Linked DNA regions of Homo sapiens. The protein of the gene in region 4 interacts with the protein of the main gene of each other region in a pairwise test. Each region holds a gene or a part of one and is shown on either strand. Other genes may lie near its edges. The genes, in order: NUTF2, APBB2, TPP2 and PPP1R16A.

Region 1 (7,021 bases), on a different chromosome or scaffold from region 4:
CGTGAGTGCCTAGCTGAGAGGAGGTCAGCCAAAGTTGTGCAGGGCGAGCCTGAACATGTCATTGGTGCAAACCCAAGCATCGTTGATGTTCTTTAATAGGAACATCTGGTGGAACCCCATGATGGGGTCTTCATCCGCCTATGAGGAGAGAAAAGAGGATTCAGTAAGGGGATCAAGAAACAGGAAGGGAATTCAGTGGTAGGAGAAGAGGGCAAAAAAATGTTGACTTTAGGATCAGGCCCTACTGTCCTGAACTCAAATCCCAGTGTAGCCAAGGGGTACTTGTGAATGTGAATTGATGTAATGTATGAAACAATGCCCTGGGCACATGTAGGCCAACAATCAGCCACGCCTATGTGTGCTATGTGTGCTTAAACTGCACAATAATTCACCCTTAGCTACAGCAAAAGAGCAGAGGATGTACCTGCCTCCAAGCACATATCTCCAGACACAAGTGATCACAATTTTGAAACGAATCCCATAGTATTTACCAAGTAACTTATAGAGTATCAAAAAAACTGCAAACAATCTTGAAAACATAGGTTCACTATCCAATGATGTTTCCTGTCATGTAATAAACAGTATTTGAGATGAAAAAAAAGGGCAAGAAACCTGCAGCCAAACTGCAGAAAACTAGGATGAGACCTAGTTGAAATAGGAGCCTAGCTAACCAGCACTGTCTCTAACATCACCTGCTTTCTGGGAATTATCGTCATCAAGGAGGCAAATCAGTTGTTTGGGAGCTCCAAATTGGACAGAATCACCAGGAAGAACCTGAAGCCGGTGGGAAGCAGCAGTGTTTACTACCTTTGCCTGAGAAAGTGAACAATGAGCTCCCTACAGAGACCTCCTGAATTCTGTGCCTCTTCAGGCACAGGCACTGAGCAGGACATCCTGAACAGGCAGGAGAAACTGACAGGAAAGTCCAGGCCAGAAAGCAGGTGCCTCTGCGTCCACTGCAGAGGCCCACAGGACCACCTACACACCCACTCTGGACTCAGGAAGCCCTGTCCCGGCTAGCCTAGAGAAAGAGAGCATGTGACCATGTTATTGTAAGACACAAGCCCAGGCCGAGGGGCAGCCAATTTGTCCTGCTATTTTTGGGAAGAAGGGTGTTTTTGTAAACAGAATCTGGCTTTATTTATTTATTTAGAGACAGAGTTTCACTCTTGTTGCCCAGGCTAGAGTGCAATGGTGCAATCTCAGCTCACCGCAACCTCTGCCTCCCAGGTTCAAGCGATTCTCCTGCCGCAGCCTCCCGTGTAGATGGGATTACAGGCATGTGCCACCATGCCTGGCTAATTTTGTATTTTTAGTAGAGACAGGGTTTCTCCATGTTGGTCAGGCTGGTCTCAAACTCCTGACCTCAGGTAATCTGCCTGCCTCGGCCTCCCAAAGTGCTGGGATTACAGGCGTGAGCCACCGCGCCCAGCCCAGAATCTGACTTTAATATGCTGAAGCACAACAGGTCCTTGGAGAGTTCTTGGGGGGTCTGAGGGACCACAGGAAGTCTCTGAGAATAATAGGTCTTGAGAAGGAGGAAGGAAAATGCAAAGAGAAATAGGTGGCTCACGCCTATAATCCCAGCACTTTGGGAGGCCGAGGCAGGTGGATCACCTGAGGTCAGGAGTTCAAGACCAGCCTGGCCAACATAGTGAAACCCTGTCTCTACTAAAAATACAAAAAATTATCTGGGTGTGGTGGCGGGCAGCTGTAATCCCAGCTACTTGGGAAGCTGAGGCTGGAGAATTGCTTGAACTCGGAAGGCAGAAGTGTAGTGAGCTGAGATTGTGCCACTGCATTCCAGCCTAAGCAACAAGAGTGAGACTCCGTCTCAAAAAAAAAAAAAAAAAGAAATAGGAGTTCCAGGAATCTGCTTTGCTCAGCAGGCAAGGAGCCAGCAGCCAGCCTGAGGAGTGGTAGCAAGGGCTGCAGGAGTGGACTGCCTCTCCGCACCCAGCTAGCCTGTCCACCTTGACCTTAGGGCAGAGTGGGAGCCTAGTGGCTTGGCACCCCAGTCCCATCCTACTCCTATACTTCTCCCTTTTCCAGATAAAGGCTCTAGACCAGTGTCTGCCAATAGGACTTTCTACAGTCACAAAAATGTTCTATATGGCTAGTACAACCGAAGAAGTACATTTTATTTAATCTTAATTAATATAACTTAAAAATTGCCACCTACATGTGGCTAATGGCTAGCATACTGAACTACGCAGCTCTAGACAGTCACTTTGTCTGGGTGTCCCTAGATAAGCAGGTCACATCCACAGGGAAAGCAGGGGTACAAGACTCTCCTCTGCCTGCCCACCCCTCCCTACCACTGTGGCAGTACCATTACCTTAAGCTGGCCCACAACCATGCTGATGATGCAGCTATCTGGAGTGGGCTGATGGTCCTGCGCGGTGATGCTGTGCTGAATTTTCTGGAACGGAAGGCTCTACAAGAGAGAGAGTGGGAGGTGGGAGAACCAAGGCCAGAAGGGGTGGGAAAGGAGCCACCTGCACCCTGGCTTTCTTCCCTACTTACAGACAACTTCTCCACAATGGCAGCTTTCCCCTGGAACTGTTGTCCTTCCCACGTAAGGCATGACGCGTCAATCTGAAAAAGGCACAGGAAACCCCAGGGTTGGGGCCTCAGAGTACAAGTATCTCTAAGGCCCTGGAAAGACTCTGAAAAGGGCCTTGCTTGGAGAAGTGTGGCCACACTTCAGTTTCCCTGTCTAAAGAAGGAGACTGAGTATAGCCCCCAAACATTACACTATCAACATCTTCTACCCCATTGACCCTGGGCCCAGGCTTTGAAAGACTATTTAATAAAATATACTTCCCATTTGTATTTAAGAAGTCATATGGTCTCTGATATGCATAGGCCCAGGAGGGCTATATTGGCCTGAGCTCAGCCATCCTGCTGTGTGGTCAGTCAGTGTCAGTCCCAAAAGGTCATCAGAAATGTGGCCAGGCACGGTGGCTCACGCCTGTAATCCCAGAACTTTGGGAAGCCAAGGCGGGAAGATCACGAGGTCAGGACATCGAGACCAGCCTGACCAACATGGTGAAACCCCAACTCTACTAAAAATGCAAAAATTATCCAGGCATGGTGGCGCACGCCTGTAATCCCAGCTACTTAGGAGGCTGAGGCAGGAGAATTGCTTGAACCCAGGAGGCGGCGGTTTGTAGCGAGCCGAAATCGCACCACTGCACTCCAGCCTGGGTGACAGAGCAAGACTCCATCTCAAAAAAAAAGTCATCAGAAATAACTTGGAAAAATTCCACATTCATCACCCTCCAGGGCCGAGGCTAAGTTCCACTGTGGACTTTCTAGCTAGCCTTCTGGATACCCATGGGGTCAGGGAGAGATAGAGGCTGACAGGGCCTTCCAAGGCCTAGTCTGGGACCCTCCCTACCACCAAGAAGCAAAATCTCAAATGTAACCCACTTAGCTTAGTTCCACCTCAAATCTTCCCTTCCACAGCCTTCAAGGGCAGAACTCAAAAGGGCTTCTGCTGCTTACTAGCTGTGACATTAAGTAAGTTATTTCTCTGAGTCTTAGTTTCCTAACCTTCAAAGGGGTAATGTGCTGAGTATTATGAAATAATAAATATAAATTGTTCTTTTAGGACCTTGCTAACTCTCTTCTCTGGCTCAGGCCTGCTTTAAGAGATAATGAGGCCAGGTGCAGTGGCTCACACCTGTAATCCCAGCACTTTGGGAGGCCAAGGTGGGTAGATCACTTGAAGTCAGGTGTTCCAGACCAGCCTGGCCAACATGGTGAAACCCCGTCTCTCCTAAAAATACAAAAATTAGCTGGGCATGGTGGTGCGTGCCTGTAACCCCAGCTACTTGGGAGGCTGAGGCATGAGAATTGCTTGAACCTGGGAGGCAGAGGATGCAGTGAGCCAAAATCGCATGAATGCACTCCAGTCTAGGTGACAGAGTGAGACTCCATCTCAAAAAAAAAAAAAGGGAGAGTGATAATGAGGCACAAGTGCCAGGATCTCAGGTCAGATCACTTCAAGGTTTCAAAAACTCTATGCTGGGCATGGTAACTCACACCTGTAATCCCAGCACTTTGGGAAGCCAAGGCAGGCAGATCACCTGAGGTCAGGAGTTGGAGACTAGCCTAGCCAACATGGTGAAATGTCACCTCCACTAAAAATACAAAAATTAGGTGTAGCCGGGCGCGGTGGCTTATGCCTGTAATCCCAGCACTTTGGGAAGCTGAGGCAGGCAAATCACCTGAGGTCAGGAGTTCAAGAACAGCCTGGCCAACATGGTGAAATCCCATCTCTACTAAAAAATACAAAAATTAGCCGGGCATGGCAACACGTGCCTGTAGTCCCAGATACTTGGGAGGCTGAGATGGGAGAATAGCTTGAACCCAGGAGATGGACATTGCAGTGAGCCAAGATTGCACCACTGCACTCCAGCCTGGGCGACAGAGTGAGACTGCATCTCAAGAAAAAAAAAAAATTAGGCTTGGTGGTGCATGCCTGTAGCCTCAGCTACTCCTGAGGCTAGGCACAAGAATCGCTTGAACCCAGGAGGCAGAAGTTGCAGTGAGCTGAGATCACCCCACTGCACACCAGCTTTGTTGACAGAGTGAGACTCTGTCTCAAAAAAAAAAAAAAAAAACTCTACTATGATAATGACAATCAAATATCTGTGCTGGAATTGGTCTTCCACTAATAAAATTTCATTATTTTTTCCAAAATTTCTGAATGGACACTGACTTTCTGGAGACAGACACAGAAGACTGTGGAGAGTCAGCCCAATCAGGCTCTGAGACTGTGCCTGGATTACTCCTAACACCCCCATCCTGGGCTCACCTGCCTGATCAATCACATTTTTGTGACTGACTCTCAGGCAGAGTCAAGTACAATTAGTTCTTGGTGTATATGAACATCGTTAAAAGAGCAGCAAATGCCGGGCGCAGTGGCTCACGCCTGTAATCCCAGCACGTTGGAAGGCCAAGGTGGGAGGATCACGAGGTCAGGAGTTCGAGACCAGCCTGGCCAACATGGTGAAACCCCATCTCTACTAAAAATACAAAAAATTAACTGGCCATGGGGGCAGGCGCCTGTAATCCCAGCTACTCGGGAGGCTGAGGCAGGAGAATCACTTGAACCCAGGAGGCGGAGCTTGCAGTGAGCTGAGATCGAGCCATTGCACTCCAGCCTGGCGAAAGAGCAAGACTCCATCTCAAAAAAAAAAAAAAAAAAGAGCAGCCAGCAATGCCTGCATAGAAGGGTTTGTGAAATGACCTATCAGCCTCCCTGGGCTAACCTCATTTGTTTTCCATGAGCATTCAGGAGCCTTGGATCCAAAAGGAAGCTGGACCCCAGGCCTCCAAGAGAGCTCAGCTTTGCACTGAGGATGCTCATGGCTGCTGCCTCCAGAGGGCACCATGAGCCCTAACCTCTGCCTGTTGCTGCCCAATCCAAAACCATGTGCCATGACAAATGCTGGCCACATGGAATGGCAAGCCCAGAACAGCAGGATTCTCACTCTTGTGGAAGTTGACAAAAGGAAAAGTATAGACCAGGTAATTACTTGGGCCAAGCGTCAGACCCCTGTCCCGTGGACAAAAGTTCAGATACAGAGGTGTAGCCAGTCCAGATAGGGCTGCCAGAACTTGTGAACTGGACACACTGGCCCAACATCCAAATTGATCCCCTAGGGTCCATTCTGGCCCTAGAGCTGGAAACTTACGTAAATTGCGCCTAGTTGGGTTCTATCATTATCAAATAACTGGTAGTAATGTTGAATGAAGCTGGATCCAATCTGCTCCCAAATTGGCTTGTCTCCCATTCTGGAGCGTCACCCGGCCTCACGGAGACCTGCAAGACCAATGAGACCAGGAGGGAAGCATTGGTACCATGAGAGTAGGTGACCAGCCACTGACCCCCACCCCTCACTGGCCTTCCTGGAGTCCTTTGCTGAGATCTGTTCTCTCAGAGAACACGGACAGGCCCTGGGGAACTGGCAGGAGACCCCTCCCAAGCCAGACCAGTGCTAGGAGCCCAGAGGTAGATCAGACCCAGCCTCTCCTTTGAGTTCTTGGTTGATGAGACACATAGATGATAGGGTCGTGGAGCACACAGGAGGGGTGCTAAGGGTAGATCTACAACAAAGAAAGGTCAGAGCAGGCCCTTGAAAGCCCAGTAAGGGGAGGGGCCTTATGGGAGGAGTTAAGCACTCCTCCAGTATCTTTCCATGTAATCCTCTCAACAACCTGCAAGGACAGAGTTATTGCTATTCTTCCCACTTTACAGCCAAGAACAACTGATACCTGTGTGTGTGTACTATTTTGTACTACAGCCCTCAGGCCCCCAACACTGTCCCAGGGCTACGCTGACAGATGGAAGACCCAGTGAGGATGTGGGGAGATTCTCAAGGCCCCTCTTCTTTTTTTTTTTTTTTTTTTTTTTTGAGACAGAGTTTCACTCTTGTTGCCCAGGCTGGAGTGCAATGGCGTGATCTTGGCTCACTGCAACCTCCGCTCCCTGGGCTCAAGTGATTCTCTTGCCTCAGCCTCCAGAGTAGCTGGGATTACAGGCGCCTGCCAACACACCCAGCTAATTTGTATTTTTAGTAGAAATGGGATTTCACCATGTTGGCCAGGCTGGTCTCGAACTCCAGACTGCAAGTGATCCACCCGCCTTGGCCTCCCAAAGTTCTGGGGTTACAGGCGTGAGCCACTGTACCCAGCCAAGGGCCCTCCTCTGCCAAAAACAGCAAGTGATCCCTTAGTCTCATGGGGGCAGTTTACTTCCCCGAGGCCAGGTGATTACCTGACCTGGCCCTTTCTAGGATATTTCTTCATTGATGGGAGTGACTCCTACCCACTTCAGAGCTGGGGACATGAGTTCAAGGATCAGAGGGAAAGCTGAGGGTTGTGGGAAGAGGGGATGGAGGCTGTGAAGGGAAACGTGTCATCCCTTCATATCCCCTCATCCCAGCATTGCTTTTACCCTAAGGAGCTGTCTCTCTCGGGTCTCTGAGAGGAGGCCCCCTCCCAACTA
Region 2 (8,014 bases), on a different chromosome or scaffold from region 4:
CTGGAGTGCAGTGGCGCGATCTTGGCTCACTGTAACCTCCACCTCCCAGGTTCAAGTGATTCTCCTGCCTCAGCTTTCCCAGTAGCTGGGATTACAGGCGGGAGCCACCACACCCGGCTAATTTTTGTATTTTTTTAGAGACGGGGGTTTTACCTCTTGGCCAGGCTGGTCTCAAACTCCTGACCTCAAGTGATCTGCCCGCCTCAGCTTCCCAAAGTGCTGTGATTATAGGTGTTAGCCACCGTACCCGGCCAGGTATTGTCTATTTTTAAAATGAAATTGAAAAAGGTACAGAGACACGACATACCATTTTTCTTATTTTTTCCTTCAACTTTTAAGTTCCAGGTACGTGTGCAGGATGTGCAGATTTGTTACACAGGTAAACATGTGCTATGGTGGTTTGATGCACAGATCAACCCATCACCTAGGTATTAAGCCCAGTATCTATTAGCTATTCTTCCTGATGCTCTCCCTTCCATTTTTCTTAAAAGATAAATTTAGATATCCAGTACTCAGGATAGTCCACACACATCATTATTCTAATATTATGACAAGGCTTTCAGTATTCATTCCTGTGGTAACAGAAAAATAAAAGAATTCAATGTTCATATGCTGTTTTTCTGGTGGCAGGAAAAGAAAACAGTCATCAAAAGGTTGAAACATGACAAAAAGTACCAGTTTAAAAATATTTTATGTTTGTACATGTGGATTCTTACAATATATGCAATAGTTTTTTCCCAAGTAATTTTGGAGTCAGTATTCACATTACTCCAGCTAAGTGTAAACACCAGTATTTTGCACTTTAGCTCATCAAGCTTTCTTTTTTTCAGAAACAGGATCTCACTCTGTTGCCCAGGCTGGAGTGCAGTGGCGTGATCATAGCTCACTACAGCCTCAAACTCCTAGGCTCAAGCAATCCTCCCACCTCACCATCCAGCTTTTCAATTACCACTTTATAAAAATTTCAGAAAGCCAGTTCACATTGGCTCCTTGAAGGTGAATTTATTCAGTTAAAAGTATCCATTAGAAGAGGGAATAAAAGCATAGGACCTAAAAACCTTCTGTGGAAAGGATCTCAACTTTAGAGTCGTCTCTCAAAGGCTCTCAGCAAATATCTAGAGACGTGGTTACATCCAGTTTACGAAGACTGTCGGTGACTTCGGGGTCATACAGTACATGGACAACGAAAGAACAGCAATTGAAATCTTGTACTTGTACCCCACCACCTTCCGCCCTATGATCAACCCACTGTACTCTACTGCCACCTGTGTTCTCTCGGCATTTCCCCAGCCTGGAGGTTTCCCCATTCTCGCCACAAATACCATCCTTCACGAACGATGCCATTTCTAGGATGTTGCAAGTTATGATAAACAACTGTTGAACAAATATTGCTTACAAGCTACAAGTTGAAAACGAGAAGGTTGCTACCTAAGTTCATGAAGAAATCCCCTTTCAAGGATTCCATCTGTTCCTAAAAGGCCAGCCACACAAATTCTAATACTCTGCATTATTATGGCCATTTGGGGACAAGATTTTAAATCTGAAACCATGACAAGAAAAAAAAAAAAAGCAAGATTTAAGAGAGTAAACTCCAGAAACAACAGATCAAACTGCCATTGTGTTTGTTTTTTTTAAATCAGTGAAATATTAAAACAAATGATAAACCCATGCCAACCTCACAAAGTTTCCTCATTCCTTGGAATTCAAACACCACCGATGGCATCATTTTATGATAATCCTTTGGGTATTTCACGTAAGTAATTAGACACAATGTAAAGCCAGTGACTGAGGGACTTAAACAAACTGTCCCCTCCGAGAGCCCAGTTGGAGCTTCCGACACTGACCTTATTCTCCTCTCAATTTTAACCCTCCTCAACCACTCAATCCATCCAAAAACGTCTGTGACAGTCGTGGCTCTAAAACCGCGCAGAACTTGACTACAGAACGGTCGGTGACAACTCCACATATGATTTATCCAAATTAATTTATTTTTTTGAATTCTAGTCCCATGCTCCCTCGGCTGTTTGCCCCGAACCCGTAGTCTACACCACTTCACCGACGTGAAGACCACCTTTCATTGTTTCTATGGGTCTCAGCATCCTTCCCTCCGTCCAGCTCTGTTCTCGCCGCACAAATGTCATTTCTAGCGTACCACCCTCCATTCCGCCCGGTGGGCAGCGCAGGGGCTTTCGGGTCCCAGTGGCCAGTTTCCTGGAGTCGGTCCCCTATGCACAGCCATTTTCTAGTTAAACGCTCTCTCTGCCACCGAGGGGGAAAAGGAACTTTTCCCCCCTTTCATGTCTCATGGGCTGGCCTCTGAACCCCTCGTGGAGAAGCCAACCCCGGCTCCAACTCCCCGGCAGGAGCGCGCTGCCGCCCAGGAGAGACAGCCGAGCGGCACAGCGGAGGCCGGTGCCAGGACAAGGGGGTGTGCGCTCTTCCCGCAGGCGCCCACCCTCACTTTTCCCCTCTGCAGTCCCCACCCGGGCGCACCGCCTCCAACCCGGTCTCCCCCGCCCCAGGCCCTGCCAAGCCGGGGCTGCTGAGGGAAAGAGGGCGCCGGGAAGCGGGAGGGATGGAAGTCAAGGAGAGTGAGCCCGCAGTCGCCGTGCCACTGGCCCTGCGGCGCGGGCGCAGGGCGCACGGGACTCCGCAGCAGGCGCCCCGCTGCAGATGCCGCGGCAGCTGCTGCAGGTGTGGCTGCGGCTGAGCGGGCAGCAGTGGCCGCGGAGCCCCGGGGCCGGGAGCAGAGGAGAAGCCGCCGGGGGAACCCGCAGCCGCTCGCCGCACGCTGCTGCCGCTACCCGGGTGTTTCCCCAGCACTCTCGTGCTGCCCCGGAATCCGGGGCAAAGGCAAGGAAGAAAGCTGGGCTCACCAGTGGTGCGCGCGGCGCTCGCCTCGGCTCCGGCGCCCAGCGGCTCTGCTCCAGTCTCGCCCTTCCCGGAGCGCCCAGATCAGATGCGGTTACAGCGCACTAGCTTCCTACTTGAGACCAGAACGGGCTCCGGCAACTGAGCATGCTCAGTGCCGTTCCGCGAGTCCCGCGCAGGGAGCGGCGCTGACGAGATTCCACTTCTCCAGGCTTTGGCAGCGGCTGCGCGAGGGAAGGCTGGAGGGACCCGGCGGGGAGGGGGCCGAATGGGAGAAAGGCGGGGCCGGGGGGTGGGGGCCGGGCAGAAGGAGGCGGGCCGCGCTCCCAGGGCGACCCCTGCAGGTGGAGGCGGCAGGGCCTGCGGGAGGCACCCTCCCCAATCGCCTGGGAACACGCAGGGAGGCAATGGGTCCCCCAGTAAGACCCAAAGGCAGGACGTGCAGTGCAGCCCGGGTATCCCCTCCGTGTGGCTGGTGTCTGTCTGCACCAAAAGGCAGTTGGGTTACCTTAGCCCTGGCTTTTCTCCCACACGCCAGCATTCCCTTGCAATAGGAAAATGTCCCCACAGGAGAGCTGCCCACACCCACCCAGGCTAACTGCAAGTTGTAGGCGACACCTTCTCCTTCCTTCTACCTCCTATCCCCACCCCCAGGCATATGCCGCACACACACTCTTCTTTGATCCGGAAATCACAAGATAATATCAGGGGAGAGATACAACTGCCGGAGAGGAAAAGGAGGTTTTCCTTTCCATTGCCAATAATATTATCTATAACTCTAATTGTAAGCGTGCAAACAAAGCCCTGATAAGAGTCGAGTCTCAGTAAACGGTAAACCGTGCTCTGCCCCAGACGCTGTGAATGACATCCCCAAAGTATCCTTAGGATTGCTCTTCACCAGGGCAGCGGTTGTCAAACTGGAGCCTGGATCAGAATCGCCTGGAGGGTTTGCTGAAGTACAAATCCCTGAGTCCCAATCTGTGTCTCTGAATGGGTAGATATGTGGTGGGGCCCAAGCATCTGTATATCTAACAAGTTCCCATGGGATGCTGATGCTGCTGGTGTGAGGACTATACACTTTAGAGAACCCTACCCATACACACACACACACACAGTCCTACCAAGGATCTCGAATTAAAAACTCACGTGATTCTTCCTATGAGGACTCTATGCAGTGGGGTGGGCATTACTTTATTCTTTCCTACATGAGTTTATTAAGGATCCACGAGGTCTTGTACTAGGCCTGAGGATAGTGGTGAATTTAAAAGCCCAGGCCCCTGCTTTCATGGAATTTATAGTCCGGCCGGGTGACAGACACCTATCAAATAATCACTCAAAACGGTTATTTCAAACAGGTAGAGTGCTGGGAGGGAAATGCACAAGGTGCGAATAGAGTGTATAGAGGGACCCTCATGCAGACTCAGTGAGGTTGTTACGAAGGGATGGGAGGGGGGCTGCCTTGTGGAAGGTGGTTTCTGACTTTTGCACTCCAATAACCTCTCCAATTAACAATTATCTCCCTCAGACCGAGCTGGAGGCCAGCAATCATGTCCCTCCTTCCTACAACATAAAAACAATACTGTCACAGAGAAATCCCTATAAATTCATGAAAAGTGTTTACTCTTGGGACTGAGTCTCTGCACCCCAAGATCCACCTAACACGTCCGTGGACCAAGGACAGTCGAGGGCCACAGTAGACCTCTTGGGGAAAATACAGGCTCTCTGAACTGGAGAGCCTGTGGTTCTTAGTCTGTGATCTTCAAGGCCAAAGAGGCAAGGAAACCAGCCCAAGACCACCATTCCCGTCAGGAGCGGAGATCGACCAGCCTCCAACCTTGCAGACGGGTCCTCTTTCCAAGGCACTCTATTCCCGGACCTCACAGCTCCCCTCAGATCCCCGGAACCCGGCCTGGCCACCCCGCTCTCTCTCGGGGGTCCGGGGTAGGTGAGCGGAGCCTGCCCCTCCCAGGTCGGTCTCTTCCCGACGGAGAGGAAAACCCGCGGTGGAGTCCGCGGCGGCGGGGGGGGGGGGGGGGGGGGGGGCGGGGCGGCGCGCGCAGGCGCAGAGGCCGCCAGGTTGGGCCGAGGAGGCGCCCTGCTCCACACCTGATGCAATCAGCCTTCCGGAAACGGGTCCCGCTGCCGCGCTCACCCAGGAAACACTTCCGCGCCCTCCTCTGGCCGCTGAGCTCCCGGGGACGGGTTCCCAAACTCCCCCGGCCCGACTTCGCCACGGGCGGTGTTCTGCGCCCCGTCGGGGATACGCCGGAGAAGTCGGGAAGTCACTGCCTGGGCACACAAAATCCCTGAAATGCCCTGACAGTGACGTCGAAACGGCCACCAAGCGTTGCGCAGCTGCAGGAGGAAATTCCCTTAATTATGAATTTACAGAGGGGACTGATCGGGGCCGGAGGGAAGGCTTTGACCCTTCCCTTGCTTCCTTCCTTCGTCCGCCTCCCAACACATTGTCTCTCTCACTGAAAGGAACGTTTAACAGCAGTTTTAAGGCAGTATGGAGAGGAATCTCCATGCCCTCTGTCTTGCTAAATATGTAACAGCACTTTAGCTTTGCTACATAAAGCTTTCCCACCGCGCGCTCATTTTATAAATACGTAATTGGTTTCTGCATACCTCATCATTTCAGTTTACAAAGAAAATCATTTCTCGTTTCACCACTTCATGCAATTTTTATATCTATTGTGAGTGGGTTTTTTTCTTCATGCTGACTCACCCATTAATTGTTTTCCAAGGAAATGAAATATCCAAGAATATTCCAAGAGCATGTTTTTTAAAGCATGGAAGTAAACGCTGTGAACAGTAGATAAAACTGACCTCTCTTAAGTCCCTTAAGGCCAAAGGTCCTCCTAGGGAGTTGGGGGAAGGAGGCAGATCCAAGGAATTTTATTTGGAAGGATACCTCAAGACCATTCTAGAATCAAATCAAGATCAACTCTTAGACTTTACAGATGACATTTACCTCTCTGTGGCCCAGAGAAATAAATGACTTCTTTATTTAGACAAACCAAAGGCAGAACTGGCACTTGAAGCCAGATTTCTCAAAATTCCAATCTAATGGGGAAAAAAAAATGTTTTTTGCACAAACACCGTAGGGAGTGCAATACTATATTACAATGCAGTTTTACAATCCAAAGATTACAAAATACAAAATAGGTGACAACAAAAGGGATCCTATTACTTGTTCCTGTGACGTCATTAGTCTTTAAATAGTCCATGATCAACAAATATCCAGCCACTTCTAAGTGGCATTGAATAGCCAGAGTCTAGGAATTAAATATTTCAATTAAACAGGTATGAGTCAGGTGCAGTGGCCCAAGCCTGTAGTACCAGCTACTGGGGAGGCTGAGGCAAGAGGGTACATGAGGCTGGACGTTCAAAGTTGCAGTAGGATCTTGCCTGTGAATAGCCACTGCACTCCAGCCTGAGCCACACAGCAAGACCTCATCTCAAAACAAAACAAAAAAAACAGTATAACTACAAAACATCAAGAAATCTTCTGTGCCAACATTAAGAACTTCTAGTATTATTATTTGATTGTGTGGTATATGTGCAACGGTTTGAGCTTAAACCAAGGGAATTTTAATGATCACAACAAAATATCACGGTCATGATTTTCTTCTGTAATGATTTTAAATACTTTAACAATTTAGTAATCAAAGTGAAATAAAAAACAACTCAAAACTCATGCCTGCAATAAGATAAAATCTAATTCTTCAAAACTCTGTCTACCTTCTTATCTTGAGGAATGAATTTCTTTTTGGAATGTTCTGACAGAGATCTGGAGGAACACCTTCTATTGAAGCAAAAATAGAGTTGAGTAAATGTCAAAATGCAGAGGTACAAAATACACACTGTCACACGGTACTAGTTTTAGAATAGCTAACTCTTACTGACTATTTAGCATGTGCCAGATACTGGCTAAGCATTTTCCATAGGTTATTTAACTCAATCCTCACAACTACCCTATAAATGAAGCACTATTATTATCCCTATTTTATGGATAGGGAAAGTGAGGCTTGCAAATGTGAAGCAGCTAACTCAAGGCACAAAATATTCATTGGCAGAACTGGGATTTGAACCCAGGCAGTTTTCCTGGAGCTTGAGCTCTTAAATAATACTATGTATGGAAAAATGTAAATACAGAGAAAATGACTATAATGATTCTCAGATAAGAAAGGAGAGGGAGTATTGTACTTACTCTCCTAAAGATAAAACATAGTAAAATAAGTTTGTAGTCCACACTAGGAAAAAACCTTTTGCTAGCTAATAAATTATGGTCCCCAAATATAGGACCAATATTACCCAGAGGTATGAGGCAGATGATCAAATATCGAGTGATTTTTCAGGGGTACCAGCAAGGCCTCTTCTCTGATGAACCCTCTACGCCTGACTGGTTTCTCTAGTCCTAAACCATCCAATATGGCAGTCACTAGCCACATATGCTTATTTAATCTGAAATCACTTAAAATCAGTTAGAATTAACTCTTCGGTTCCTCTTTCATACTAGCCACATTTCAAGTGCTCAGTAGCATATGGCCTAATGACTACTGTATTGGATAATGTAAGTAAAAAGCATTTGCATCACTGCAAAAAATTGTATTCAACAGTGCTGCTCTGGGCCTTAATGTCATTAGGGCAATCCTTTAATCTCTCTTCATACTGCACTATTCCTGGGAGGACCATGTTTCCATGGTCTACCTTCCCATTGAGCTTCAGTCCTATTTTTCCAAACTAAAATTATTATTAGAGTGTAGAAAGGTACAAAGAGGTACAAAGCATAAAGTCCCCTACTATCATGGAAAGAATAGGGGCACTGGAGTAAGACCTTATTTCACATTCCAGCTCTTAGTAGTTGTGTGACCTTGGGCAAGCTACTTTACCTCACTGAATCTCACTTTTCTTATCTGCAAAATGGGCATGTTAATTTTTTCATTATAGGTTTATTTAAGATTAAATAACATATGTAAAGCTTCTGGTAGGCCTCACATAGGATGATTTCCTTCCTTCCACTCCTATTTCAGTTAATGACATTCCCCAATTACTCAGGTTTCTAAACTAGAAATCTCAGTCATCTTCAATTCTTCCTTCCTCCTCAACCACCCGCATTAAATTAATCACCAAGCCC
Region 3 (7,021 bases), on a different chromosome or scaffold from region 4:
TGCTGCCTCCCTCTAATCCAGTTCTCTTAACTGCAATATCTTGGACTAGATGCTCTCAAGGCCTCTGGAAGCAGGGTCCTTGTCTAAGTAGCTCACCACCTTAGCCCACTGAAAAGGGCCTGGCACAGATGGTACAGAAAAATATGCTTAATGAATGAGTGTAGTACAACCCGATTATCCTCAGAAGCCTCTCACTGCTGCAATAGCTCCATTATAAACCAGTGTGCAAATTAACAGGCTATATTGGGTGCTGTTCAATTCACTGCTTTAGCTCTCAGCTTTTGCTATTATTTTGCCTTTACCTAATTACAAAAAACAAGAAAAGTCTGGTATTTCCTGTGATACCAGGTGACAAACAGATGGACAGCATACAGATAGATGACCAGAAAATGGTATGGGGAACCAAATACAACCAGTTATTCCCAAACCAAGTCATACATGTGTGATTTCAATATTTCATTTTCAATAAAGTCTCAGATGTAAATATATCTGTACTTTCATACAAGTACAAAAAACACACTCCTAAGTAAAATACAAGCCATTTTTACTAATGACACCTATCTACCTTATAGGGTTCTGACGGGACTAGACAAGATAATCTCTGTAAAGTGCTTAGCAGAGGGGCCAAATCCAAGAAGTATCAACAATGCTGGCTACTAATTTAAATTGGGTGACACTTTCTTGACTGCCCGTATTTGCTTCCTTCTATCAATGGGAGTGAGCTCTGACAACTGACATACCCTTCTATACTGACTGCTAAATTGTAAATTTAGGACACACAACTTGTGAAGGAAAATATGGTACACCCACAGCTCTTGTAAAAAAGAATGACATGAGCACTCTCACAGGACTATAACATGTTAATTCAAGAGCTTTGTGTTAGGCAATCATTTACTCTCAAAATTTCAGAGACACTGAAGTGAAAATCTTCTATAAACAGAGCTTCAAAGATTAAAGCTCTATTTCTAAAATTCTGAGAGTTTAACAGTTTGAGGTTTAAGCAACAGCTGCATTGTTTAAACTGATTTGTAGTATTTTAAAAATTAGGCCGGGCACAGTTGCTCATGCCTGTAATCCCAGCACTTTGGGAGGACGAGGCGAGTGTATCACGAGGTCAAGAGATCGAGACCATCCTAGCCAACATGGTGAAACCTCGTGTCTACTAAAAATACAAAAAATAGCCTGGCGTGGTAGCACACGCCTGCTAGTCCAAGCTACTCGGGAGGCTGAGGAAGGAGAATCGTTTGAACTGGGGAGGTGGAGGTTGCAGTGAGCCGAGATCATGCCACTGCACTCCAGCCTGGCGACAGAGTGAGACTCTGTCTCAAAAAAAAAAAAAAAAAAAAAAAAAAAATTATTACCAGGTAAGGCATTATTCTAAACTAAGCTCAAACCTTAAATATTAAAAACATCTTAAGATGGCTTAATTTCCTGTATGGGCCAATGCAAAATTGTACTAGATCTTAAAAACGTTTTGAACTTTACAGAAAGTCTAAGGTACCCAAATACATATATTAGTACCAGGGAAATACATGCTACAGATAAACGAACCTCATACAGCTATAGTCATTAGAACGTAAACAGAGATAAGCGGTCACACAGATTTTAATTTTACCTACCAGCCCATGTTGCACCCTCAGGAACCTCAATAAAATGCCTTCGAATTTGACCAGGTTTAAAGTGTACATCTGTAAAGGCTAGATCATAATGTGATGATTCATTTACTCTGAAAATTAATAAAAGTAATTAAATGTATATATTTATTATAAGACCACAGATACTCTAGATTTCATTGGATAAACGCAAAATAACAATTCATTGGAAATAAACACAGGGACTTAGAAGCTGGTTACAAAACAGTAGGTACGATATTGTTCAATTTTTGCAGTAGGTTAGCAGAGATAACCTCTGAATAGCAGAGTATAGATGATTCTACTTTTTGCCTATTTTATGATTTGTAAGATACATTCACACACACTATTAAAAAAGCATTCTCTTTTTTGTTAAAGGCATTCTACAACATTCACAGAATTTTCCAATTACCAGATTCCAAACTACAGTGAGTCCTAGATATTAAAATCAATGATAAAGTTTTATGTCACTGGTATTATAGCTATGAGACTTGTGTTAAATTAAGCTCCTCCTGTAGCTTCAAAACACTCCCATGATGTAAAACAGTAAAGAAAGGCAAACTACTTTCAAAGCACTTTTGTAAGAAATCAATGAAATAAAGTTCAAATGCATAACTACCCACCACGGAAACAAATTTTATGCTAGAGACAAATTCTTGTCAGTAGGACAAACGGTTAAATGAGTGCCTACTACATGAGGCCCTGTTATTAGGAGCTAGAAACGTAACAAAGAAGAAAATATGATTCTTTAACCTAGACAATCTAGCATGGAGAGAATCATCATCAGAGACATTTAACATAAGATGCTCCAGATAGACAAGAAGAGTTACGGAGCCTGGGAAGCTTCCTGAAGGAGATGGCGTGGCAGCTGACTCCTGAAGGTCTTACACATTACCTGGTCTAAATTACTACTGGACTTCGAGGGAATATACGGCTGAGAATTTAACTGTTGCACAATTTTTCCACATGTATACCACTTTTTAAATTTATTCTCCTCAATTTCATCCTGTGTTTCTCATGGGCTGAGATCTATTGCATACTTAATATTTACCAGAGTAACAGAACTGTTAGTTTAGAATTTCCACTTGGTTTCCAGTACTCTCACAATCCCAATCTCACCTTCATCCACTAGATAATTTATTTTATACATCCTGTATAACAGTAGTCTCTGTGCCTTCGGTGGGCTCACAGTGAAAGAGTGTAAGTTAAATAAAAAATTACAATATATTGGCTAAAGTCTGTCCAGGGGCACGTAAAATGTGCCACGAAGCAGAAAGAAGGGACTCCCTTCACCCAGGGATGACCAGGAATGCACCTGGTCATTAACTGAAGAGACAGGAAATTGAAACCAAGTTATCAGCTGTGCACATGCACAAATCCTGAGAATCCTCAAGTGCCAAAATCAGTGAGTTGGCCAAAATGTGTAATTTGGTGTACGGAATGACAGGAAACACTGGCTAGGGCTATAATTGTGAGGGAGCATTGTTTGCTATTTTAAGGAGCTTGAACTTGACCTTTGGAGGTGCCACTGATATACTTTAAGCAGGAAGTAATATAATCTGCTGATTTTTCCTTGGTTCCAGAGGAATAAGATGGGAAGTTAAGAGTTTCTTAACTTCTGCTTCTACAGTAGATAACTAGAAAAGTGGAAGCATTAAGAGAAGAGAGTAAATCCCAAAAACGACAGAGACAAAAAGGGCAGGAATGGAGGGGAGTGAAGTAATATTGTCAAATACTACAGTGGGATCGGGTCAGACGAAGCCTGAGTTATCCTCTGAACTGGGCAATGCAGAGCTCAGAGTGACTGTGGTGGAAATAGTTTTGATGCAGAGGTAGGGCAGATGCCAGGTGCCATCAGTTACTCTCAGAGCACACAAGAGTCAGTATGGCTGACTACATGACACCTAAAAATGCTAGCTGGGAGCAGAACTAAGACAAAATCCCCATTACCTGGTTCTGTATTAGTGATCATTAAAAGTCCACAAGACTCCATGAATAGTCATTAAAATCTTAGATGTACCAGTAAGCTGTGAGTAACCTGTTACTTACTTTGCTGCTATAACTGCAGTGATCGGAACTCTGAAGAGCGGACCTGCGTTAGGGGATGCTATATCATAGCCACATACCTTGAAAAAAGAATCGGTAAGTGTCAATATCCATAAACAAATGTTTAAAAGAGCGGGGGAAGGTCTAAACTACTGACAGAATAAATCAATCTACTTTTAATCAAGGTCTTAACCAGAGGTTGACACCAATTTCCTGACACTAGGTCACATAATTAATAGCAAACAGCCCAAACAAATGTATAGCAACATTTGACCAGTTGAAATGGGAAAATGAGACGTCAGGTACAAAATAAGTGCATTTTAATTACTCCCAACTGAAAAATTAGCTCAAACTAGTACTACAGACAACTTTAGATGTGGAGATACTGTTGTGATACTATTCTATGCCTGGTTTACAACTATTTGTTTAACAGATGCTTTCTTCATCTGAGTACTAAAAGGTATAACTGGCTGGGTGTGGTGGTTCACACCTGTAATCCCAAAGCCCTGGGAGGCCAAGGCAGGAGGATCACTTGAGGCCAAGAGTTCAAGACAAGACTGGGCAACATAGAGAGATCCTGTCTCTACAAAAATAAAAAAATTTAGCCAGGCTTGGTGGTGCACGCCACTAGTCCTAGCTACTCAGGAGGCTAAGGTGTGAATATCACTTGAGCCCAAGAGTTCAAGGCTGCAGCGAACCACGATCACACCACTGTACTCCAGCCTGGGCAACAGAGCAAGACTCTGTCTCTTAAAACAACAACAACAACAACAACAAGCAACTGCAGCTTTGTTTAGCTGACAAAAGAAAACACCAGTTAGAGGGAGATCTAATTGAAAGGTTCTGCTGTACCTCTTCTTTCCTTTTACTTATTCATACAAGGACAAAATATGATTCTTTAGAAACTCACTGCTTAAATGAATATAGACACACCAGAAGAACTGAATAACCTGGCAGATGGATAGGTCTAGTTATTTCTTAGCAAGAAAGCAATATATTGCAAATATACTTTGGATTTTTTTTTAACCTTTTAAACATTTTAAAGAGTGAAGAAAGTAAAAATGAAGATACATCAATACCTCTGTATAATGCAATCCTTCTCTTAAGCCCCTGGGATCCACACGTATGTTTATGTGTCTACATTGATTCATGAGTTCCAAATGGCTGGGACACTGAACCCAAGATGAATTTGAAGTCAGAGCTAAATGAAGCTGAAGGGATATTTTTTCAGAGTTTTCTGGCACGAAAAAGACCAAAAATTAAAGATGAGTATTTTTTTCCTTTTTTCCATTTAAAAATGTTACATCTTTCCAAAAAAATTTAGCGACTTGGTTTGGTTGGCTGTAAAATGCATCCAAAACACAGCTTAAATAAAACAGTCAAATAATCTTCCTTACAATTTAGATTACTCATGATTCATTTATACTTTCACCAAGCACTGGTATGACCTTAAAATAAAGAGTTTAAGTGAATGTTTTCATTACTGCACACAGGTCATAGTATTCAACTGAAATGAAGACAGCCAGATAATAGCGATGATTATTTTTGTTCACACCTAATCGAGCTGCAGTTCTCCTAGACTGCTTCTACTTTTCATTCTTCAACAGAAAGCTCTGTCTTATACCTAAGTAGGTAAAGTGGAAAAGAAATTTGATATTTTATTATCCACAATTTAATAAAGCTGTGGGTCACTGAGGCTCATTCTACTGTTTTCCCTGGTAGTTTAAGATGCTAACTAAATTGCCATTGTACAAGGACCCCAAATTGCTCTAATATTTTCTCTTATGACTAAGATTTAAAATAATCATACTGTCAATTCATGTATTCTCTTCACAACACTGGCCCAAACAGCAATTCTTTATTATGATACCACTCATTCAAACAGCAAATGTGAATACGTCAGCTTACTGCCAGCCTATTACTGACCTGTGTTCTCCGGAAATACAGGTTCAATGCCAACGCCATGATCTGAAGGTGCAGCCACCTGAACAGGATCTCGGAGGTAGATGCCACGGTTATTTCCAACAGTAACAGTAAAACCTAATTTATTAGCAAATGATGTATTCTGAACGAGGTAGTCATAGGCTTTATCAACCTAGTGAAAATAATATACATGGTAAGATATAAATGGTTGGGTCAAAAAATATTTTGTTGCAAATTACCAATCAATTTGATTTCAGTTGTAAAACAAAAAGTTAGTGTCTATATTCACCTCTCAAAACTACCTAGTACCCCAACTAAGAGGACAATTCTACATTTTTAGAAACAACACCAGTCACATCTTCCACTCCACTCTATTCACACTGTTATTCTCAAGTGACCAAATTTAGGAACTAATCCCTATGCCGTTATGATTGGCCAGTTTTTGACCTCGATTTCTTTGAATTTCTAACCTCTACATGGCCTCCATCTATTACATTTCTTGATCTTAGTGCAACAGATTTGTCTTAACTACAAAATTTGTTTGTGTATCCTTTTTGCTTGTAGTTCTATGGCCATATAATCCATAATTCAGATATACTGAATCACTGTTATAAAACAAAATATTACCCAATAATATCTAAGATATTATCTCAATGATGCTTTACAACCCATTTTTCATATAGGCAACAATACCTGAATAATACCATGTCCTTGAGCAAATACTTCTATATTGTCAGCCTTCACTGCAGTGTTTTCTAGAGCTCTTCTGACTGAATGAACTGTGTAGTCAATGTTATTAGCTTTCAGACCTAAAATTAAGAAACAAAAACAAGTAGTGTAGCACTCACTATCTGAAACCTTAGCCGCCCACCAGTATGATCGATCACCTGTAGACCCTCTGGTGTTAATGTCTTGTGTTCTAACACTCATTTTAAAATCTTTTTTGAAGACCTGAACTAAACAGTCTGACTCAAACTGCTTGCATTACATGAAGGCTTCATTCCACAAAAATCACTGTGTTCTCATTATGTGGTGGGCAGAGAGACTGGTGTGGGCTTTGTGGCGTAATATAAACGTACAAAGCAGATATCTAAAAGCATGTGAATGACATTTTCTTTCAAACACTGCTGGGTTAAACAAGATGGCTGTTGGCTGTGGTGTTCAACCCAACTGTATGTTATAAACCCCAGGGGAACTCAAGCAAAAAAGATGCTGAGGTCTCATGACAGACCAATTAAATCAGAATCTCTGAGGACTGTCCCAGAGATTGTTATTTATTAAACAACTCTCAGATGATTCTAGGGTACAGCCAGGTTGGGAATTACTGTTTTATGGGAAGAATATGGAGGCCACCAATTCATAAGATGAGTGCTGTATCATTCTTGTCCTCTCCAGAGCTCATTAAACACATAAACATTGAT
Region 4 (7,021 bases):
TGTCTGGCCAGTGTGTGCTTGCCCTGGCCTCTGCGGTCTACAGAGCTGGCCAGGCTTAGGAGCAGGCTGCTCGGAGGGAGAGTTACTGCCTGGAAAAGCTCTTTACTTGGCAGGCAGAAAGCCAGGTCAGGGCCACTGGCCTTATTGGCCGTGTCCTCAGGAAGCCTCTGAGGCTAGGCCTACAGGGGGGGACTATGTCTAGAGTAGGCTGAACCTGTAAAGTGGGGCTCCCAGATAAATTGGGGGCCCCTGAGCAGGAAGGACCTGACTGGCTTAATTTGACCTGGCCCAGGACAGTTCCCTTTCTGAAAGAAGGGGGCATTCTATGAAACACCTGGGTAGAAGTCCAGCAGTGAAGAGTTGGGTCAGTGTGTAGATGGCCATGAGGCCTGGCTGGGTGGAGAATAGGACTCCTGGCAGGCATCTTCTGCAGAGCACGGAGTGCCTTCTTTCTTTTCTTTCTTCCTTTCTTTCTTTCTCGGAGTCTCGCTCTGTCACCCAGGCTGGAGTGCAGTGGCGTGATCTTGGCTCATTGCAAGCTCTGCCTCCCTGGTTCACGCCATTCTCCTGCCTCAGCCTCCCGAGTAGCTGGGACTACAGGCACGTGCCACCACGCCCAGCTATTTTTTTTGTATTTTTAGCAGAGATGGGGTTTCACCCTGTTAGCTAGGATGGTCTCGATCTCCTGACCTCGTGATCCACCCGCCTTGGCCTCCCAAAGTGCTGGGATTACAGGCCTGAGCCACCGCGCCTGGCCAAGCACAGAGTGCCTTCTGAGGTGAGGCCTGTGGCCAGCCCAGCAACCACACTTAGTGTGTCGGGCAGGACTAGGGCCATAGCAGGTACATAGGCAGGGTTGTGCCCCAGCCGAAGCTGTCTGCCTGCCTGTCTGTCCCCATAGGCCTCAAGCCAGGCACCAGGTGGGGGCTTTTATTGCAGCCTAGGATGGCAGAGGCATTGTGGGAGCCCATCAAGGAAGAGGTCTAGAGACTGGGCAGTGAGAGGCTGGGGTATCAGTCAGGACAGGAGGAGGCGGGGCCTACCCTTGGAAGGCAGGAGAGGTGGAGGCCCAGGAGGCGGGGCCTGCCCTTGGAAGGCAGTAGCCTGCAAAGCCCTCAAGGCTGTTCCACGAGACCTCACCCTGCCCAGCCTTAGGGCAGCGCCTGGCCCTGGAGGAGCAGCCTAGCAGGGAACGCCTCGCTGGGGTGGGCGGCCCTTTCTGGAAAGGGTGGGTGGGAGGAGCCTGACATGCCTTTCCCCCGCCCCTCTCTGAACCTGGGGCAGAATGGGGGCAGAGTAGCTCCCCGTACCCCCAGGACTGTTGACCTGCAGTGCTCTCTGTGGACAAAGGGTGGGCCTCACACAGGGCAGGACCTGAGACAGCTGGAAGCCTGGTCTCACCTGAGGCCCAGGGCAGGGGCTCCCCCGGGCCACCCTGCCTCAAGCCGGCCTTGATATGCTTCCTTGTTCCCCACTTCTCAGGTGTGAGCAGCTGCTGGAAGAGGAGGTGCTCCTGAAGACACTGCGGCCGGCCCGCCTGTGCCCTTGGTGCCCTGGCTGCCTAGAGAGCCTCACCCCTGGGCCCTGGGGCCAGGACTCCAGGACTCTGACTACCTGCCCTCCCCCAGCCTCAGCGGCTGCACCTCCTCGTTAGTACTGATGCACTGACCTCGGCACACAGCTGGGAGGGGTTGGGGGCTGGGTCATGGCTGCTCCCAGGCCCCACCCAGGCTCCTGAGCCTAGAAGGTGAAAAGAGGACTCTCAGGGGCTCACAGGGGCTCTCACTGCTGGTTGGCCCTGCCCTCCCTTCCCCCTCAGCAGGGTGCCCGGAAGCTGGAACCTTGTTATCTGGGTAATTAGTTTCAGACCCTGCACTGAGGCCGGCCAGGTCTCGGGGCTGCCTCCCATAGGTTGTGCACCCTGACCCCGAGAGGGAGGCGAGGCGCTGCTTGTCGACAGCTAGAGGCTGGCCTGGGGAGCAGGTTTGGGGTGCCCTCCCACACTGCCCTCCCTGCCCCGGCCCATGCCCCCCAGGGCTGCCTGGGCCTGGTTATTGTGTGGGGCCTCCTGACCCAGCCAAGGGCACGAAGCTCTGGGAAGGGGATGCCCCCGAGGGTGCCAGTCCAGCTAGCTGCCCCACCCCTCAGGCCCAGCCTGGCCCCCAAGCTCCCCACTCTGGTGCCCCGAGCAGCCCTGTGGGCAAGCAGCCGCCGCCATGGCCGAGCACCTGGAGCTGCTGGCAGAGATGCCCATGGTGGGCAGGATGAGCACACAGGAGCGGCTGAAGCATGCCCAGAAGCGGCGCGCCCAGCAGGTGAAGATGTGGGCCCAGGCTGAGAAGGAGGCCCAGGGCAAGAAGGGTCCTGGGGAGCGTCCCCGGAAGGAGGCAGCCAGCCAAGGGCTCCTGAAGCAGGTCCTCTTCCCTCCCAGTGTTGTCCTTCTGGAGGCCGCTGCCCGAAATGACCTGGAAGAAGGTGAGTGTGGCTGAGCCCAGAGCAGCTCCCAGCAGACGGCCCACTCCCTGCTACCTGGGTGCCGTCTCATGCCAAGGCTGGGGGCTGGGCCTGTCCACAGCTCCTGGGCTCCAGCCCCCAGATCTTGCCTGGTCTCTTCAGGCTGGGTGGCCCAGGGTGCCCCCATCAGGCAAGCCCCAAGCAGTGGGCAGCCCTGAGGTGAGCCTGTGCGGGACAGCCGTCCTTCAGGCGGGGGCTGCATGCAGAGGGCTCCTGCTGTGAGGTGAGCTGAGGCCATGAGTGGACCCCCAGGAGCCTGCAGAAAAACCTAGTGCGGGGCCCCACGGGAGCAGGGGTGGCCGGTAGTCATTGCTGCTTCTTGTTAGGCTGCTCAGGAGAGCCCTGGTCTCCACCTCCGTGAAATAGGGTGGGACCAGCCACCTCTGTGGGTGAGAGAGCCAGGCCCTGGGCAGGCACAGAGCTATGCAGGTGGCCCCCTCTCAGTGCCTGCCCTAGGCTCTGCTTGTGACTCTCTTCTCCTCACCTGTGCCCCACGCTTGCAGCCCCAGCTGTGTGGGTTCCACTTCTGGTGCTCTGGAGTCTTGGGGGAAGAGGCACTGTGGTGGCCCTTGAGACTCCTTCCTGCCTCCCTCCGGAGCAGAGAGTAAAGAGGAGCCGGCAGTGTCTGGCCTGCATCTTTCCATGTGGACAGGAGCCCTCCCGGGAGGCCTGGAGGCAGAGGGAAGAGGCGGAGGGTGCCATGGTCCACAGGGAGCTGTGGGAAGGTGGGAGCCCTCCTGCTGCACCCCAGGCACCGTCAGGGAGAACCCTGGTGACCTGGGCGAGAGCTGGGCCCGAGTTGGGATCTTTGATGGGGAGGGGAGTGAGAGCAGGGATGTGCTCTGGTGGTGGGGAGCCTCAGGTCAGGTCCCAGAGGACCCAGGAGAGCTCATGAACACAGGGCTGGCAGGTTGTCAGGGAAGAGCCGAAGGAGCTGTGGTAGCCTCCAGGCAGGGAGCTCTTCCTGGGCTGGAGGGAGGTGTGGGATTGTTGGAGTGCTGCTCTCACACAGGAGCACGGCCTGTTCTGGGGGTCGGAGGGCTGGAGCACCACCATGAAGGGCCTGCAGGTGGGTGGAGGCAGAGGGCTTCTGGGAGTGTGACCGGCCTGGGCCAGACAGATGCCTGGTGCTTCTGCCCCCACCCCTGGGCTCTGGTGTGCCTCCTGCCATCGGCACCACTGTCTTCCTTGTCCTTCCCTGGGTCCTGGGCCGAAGCACAGTTGACAGGACCTGACCAGGGGCAGGACCCTGTCCTCACCTCGCCACCTTTTTGCAGTCCGCCAGTTCCTTGGGAGTGGGGTCAGCCCTGACTTGGCCAACGAGGACGGCCTGACGGCCCTGCACCAGGTCAGCCTGCACTGGGTGTGGGCAGGGTGGGGGCTGGCCCCCGTGCTCTGGTCGCTCACGTGGCACGGTTTGCAGTGCTGCATTGATGATTTCCGAGAGATGGTGCAGCAGCTCCTGGAGGCTGGGGCCAACATCAATGCCTGTGACAGTGAGTGCTGGACGCCTCTGCATGCTGCGGCCACCTGCGGCCACCTGCACCTGGTGGAGCTGCTCATCGCCAGGTAGGGCCTGTTGGGCGTCCTTGGCAGGGAGAGGCTTCCTCTCAGATGGCCGCTCAGGAGGCTCCTCTTGGGCAGTATCTGTGGCTCTCGGCCTCCTGTGTTCCCGCCTTCACCTTTGCTGACCCTGCCTGTGTCCTGGCATGGAGAGCAGGGCCTGGGGCTCCAGGGGAATGGGCATGTGCCCAGGGCAGCGCGGTCCCTGCCTCCCCAGCATTCGTCCTCCTGCCGAGAGGGCAGGCCTCGGGCCCCCCCCCAGAGTGTGCACAGAGAAATGTCTTGGTCAGTGAGGAGGGCAGAACTGCTAAGGAGGGAAGCAGAGTGAGGAGGCCAGGTGGCTTGGGAGGAGAGGGTACCTGAGCACAGGTAGGGCCTTTACCTTTAACACAGAGGGACGTAGAGCGGGGGGAACTCTGAGCAGGGAGGGTCCATGAGCCTCCTCCCTTCCCCTTTGCTCCAGGCATCTGTAGTGGGAGAGAGGTCAGGGCTGCGGTCATTCTCGAGTGCCCCTGTGAGGCCGGGTGGGGTGTGCATGGCGGTCGCGTCACACACAGGCGCTGCGGGGCAGGCGGGGATGTGGGGTGTCCACAGGTAGGCCTGCTCCTCCACTGCACACAGACACCCCCTTCTGTGTTCTGGGCTCCCCTTCACCGCCCTTCTTCCCTGGGGCCATGCTCCCCACAGCTCAGCAGCCCCTCAGCGTGGCTGCCTGGTCCTGCACCCCCGCCACCCTGTGCTCCCTGCTCCCCAGCAGGCAGGCCCATCCAATGCATGTTTATGGGGGCACCGCTGCCCCTGGAGGTGCCAGGAACCTGGATCCCTGGATGGATAGAGACTGCAGGAGGCCTGTCTGGCTTAATGACAGGATCTAGGACAGCCGATGGGCCCCAAGGCTGCCTCTCCCAGCAGCAGGTGGACAGGGTGCCTCCTGAGGGGCAGCCCTGGGCTGAGGGGCCCTGGCGGGGACTTCTCCAAGTGAGGAGCCTGGCAAGCGGGGAAGGGCCTTGTGCCCAGCACCCCGTCCGTCTTCCCTGCAGTGGCGCCAATCTCCTGGCGGTCAACACCGACGGGAACATGCCCTATGACCTGTGTGATGATGAGCAGACGCTGGACTGCCTGGAGACTGCCATGGCCGACCGTGGTAGGTGCGGCGGTGCGGCTGTGGGAGGGCTGCCGGTCGCGCTCCCTCTGAGCCTGCCGCCTCGCAGGCATCACCCAGGACAGCATCGAGGCCGCCCGGGCCGTGCCAGAACTGCGCATGCTGGACGACATCCGGAGCCGGCTGCAGGCCGGGGCAGACCTCCATGCCCCCCTGGACCACGGGGCCACGCTGGTGAGGGCTGGGGGGTGAGGGGCACACGGGGCTGGGGGCCTCGCTACTTGGAGGTGGGGGATGGGGCCGAATTCAGGCCGGGCGCTTGCCTGCAGCTGCACGTCGCAGCCGCCAACGGGTTCAGCGAGGCGGCTGCCCTGCTGCTGGAACACCGAGCCAGCCTGAGCGCTAAGGACCAAGACGGCTGGGAGCCGCTGCACGCCGCGGCCTACTGGGGCCAGGTGAGTGCGGGCGGGAGCAGGTGGGAGGGGGCTTCCAGCGCAGCAGTCTGCAGCTCCGGCCTGCCGTCCACAGGTGCCCCTGGTGGAGCTGCTCGTGGCGCACGGGGCCGACCTGAACGCAAAGTCCCTGATGGACGAGACGCCCCTTGGTGAGCTTGCGGGGCCCACCTCCACCTGGGGGAGAGGACAGGCGGGGAGGGCGCCCCTGACGCCTGCGCCCACTTCTCAGATGTGTGCGGGGACGAGGAGGTGCGGGCCAAGCTGCTGGAGCTGAAGCACAAGCACGACGCCCTCCTGCGCGCCCAGAGCCGCCAGCGCTCCTTGCTGCGCCGCCGCACCTCCAGCGCCGGCAGCCGCGGGTGAGCGCCGCCCCCAGCAGGCCCCGCCCCGGGCTTGGCCCCGCGGACGTCAGCCCCGGGCGGAGTGCCAGCCGAACTGGGGGCAGAGTCCGAGGGGGTGGGCGGGGTCCTCCGGGCACTCCCCTTCCCCTCACTCCCTCTCCTCTCTCCTCCCCAGGAAGGTGGTGAGGCGGGTGAGCCTAACCCAGCGCACCGACCTGTACCGCAAGCAGCACGCCCAGGAGGCCATCGTGTGGCAACAGCCGCCGCCCACCAGCCCGGAGCCGCCCGAGGACAACGATGACCGCCAGACAGGCGCAGAGCTCAGGCCGCCGCCCCCGGAGGTGAGCGCCCCGTCCCTGCTCCGCCCAGCGCAGGGGTGGGCCTGGCTCTGCCCTGGTTCTCTCTCCGCTTGGACCCCCTCCTGCCTGTGTCAGGAATGGTGCCCTGCAGGGGCCAGCTTTTGCCCCATCTCTCCTGTCTGTCCCTTCATGACCATACAGCCTGAACCCAAGGCCAGGGAGGGGGGAGGAGCCTCCTGATGGCTCTGGGACCTTCACTGCCCGCAGGAGGACAACCCCGAAGTGGTCAGGCCGCACAATGGCCGAGTAGGGGGCTCCCCAGTGCGGCATCTATACTCCAAGCGACTAGACCGGAGTGTCTCCTACCAGCTGAGCCCCCTGGACAGCACCACCCCCCACACCCTGGTCCACGACAAGGCCCACCACACCCTGGCTGACCTGAAGCGCCAGCGAGCTGCTGCCAAGCTGCAGCGACCCCCACCTGAGGGGCCCGAGAGCCCTGAGACAGCTGAGCCTGGCCTGCCTGGTGACACGGTGACCCCCCAGCCTGACTGTGGCTTCAGGGCAGGCGGGGACCCACCCCTGCTCAAGCTCACAGCCCCGGCGGTGGAGGCTCCCGTGGAGAGGAGGCCGTGCTGCCTGCTCATGTGAGGCTGTTGCTCAGCATGCAGGGGCCCTGTCGCGGGCACAGCCCAAGGCTGCCTCCCCACGGTGCGTGCCCTGGTGCTGCGGGTGCAGCACGGAAAC

The links.
Region 1: the proteins of PPP1R16A (region 4) and NUTF2 interact in binary tests that used the Homo sapiens proteins (3 or more experiments, as listed by UniProt).
Region 2: the proteins of PPP1R16A (region 4) and APBB2 interact in binary tests that used the Homo sapiens proteins (3 or more experiments, as listed by UniProt).
Region 3: the proteins of PPP1R16A (region 4) and TPP2 interact in binary tests that used the Homo sapiens proteins (3 or more experiments, as listed by UniProt).

What each region holds. Positions count from the first base shown.
Region 1 is NC_000016.10:67,863,917-67,870,937, reverse strand, and holds part of NUTF2 (nuclear transport factor 2), read right to left. Parts: intron 5,837-7,021; 5' UTR 5,808-5,836; coding exon 5,709-5,807; intron 2,599-5,708; coding exon 2,527-2,598; intron 2,438-2,526; coding exon 2,339-2,437; intron 139-2,338; coding exon 25-138; 3' UTR 1-24. UniProt on the Homo sapiens protein: Mediates the import of GDP-bound RAN from the cytoplasm into the nucleus which is essential for the function of RAN in cargo receptor-mediated nucleocytoplasmic transport.
Region 2 is NC_000004.12:41,211,529-41,219,542, forward strand, and holds the start of APBB2 (amyloid beta precursor protein binding family B member 2), read right to left. Parts: upstream 3,015-8,014; 5' UTR 2,877-3,014; intron 1-2,876. UniProt on the Homo sapiens protein: Plays a role in the maintenance of lens transparency, and may also play a role in muscle cell strength. Involved in hippocampal neurite branching and neuromuscular junction formation, as a result plays a role in spatial memory functioning.
Region 3 is NC_000013.11:102,634,975-102,641,995, reverse strand, and holds part of TPP2 (tripeptidyl-peptidase 2), read right to left. Parts: intron 6,410-7,021; coding exon 6,294-6,409; intron 5,773-6,293; coding exon 5,604-5,772; intron 4,915-5,603; coding exon 4,757-4,914; intron 3,758-4,756; coding exon 3,681-3,757; intron 1,727-3,680; coding exon 1,620-1,726; intron 1-1,619. UniProt on the Homo sapiens protein: Cytosolic tripeptidyl-peptidase that releases N-terminal tripeptides from polypeptides and is a component of the proteolytic cascade acting downstream of the 26S proteasome in the ubiquitin-proteasome pathway.
Region 4 is NC_000008.11:144,494,979-144,501,999, forward strand, and holds part of PPP1R16A (protein phosphatase 1 regulatory subunit 16A), read left to right. Parts: exon of another isoform or gene 1-1,482; 5' UTR 1,483-2,216; coding exon 2,217-2,475; intron 2,476-2,998; exon of another isoform or gene 2,999-3,017; coding exon of another isoform or gene 3,018-3,239; exon of another isoform or gene 3,240-3,791; coding exon 3,792-3,862; exon of another isoform or gene 3,863-3,937; coding exon 3,938-4,083; exon of another isoform or gene 4,084-4,544; intron 4,545-5,117; coding exon 5,118-5,221; intron 5,222-5,288; coding exon 5,289-5,413; intron 5,414-5,508; coding exon 5,509-5,634; intron 5,635-5,707; coding exon 5,708-5,783; intron 5,784-5,863; coding exon 5,864-5,993; intron 5,994-6,150; coding exon 6,151-6,316; intron 6,317-6,541; coding exon 6,542-6,925; 3' UTR 6,926-7,021. UniProt on the Homo sapiens protein: Inhibits protein phosphatase 1 activity toward phosphorylase, myosin light chain and myosin substrates.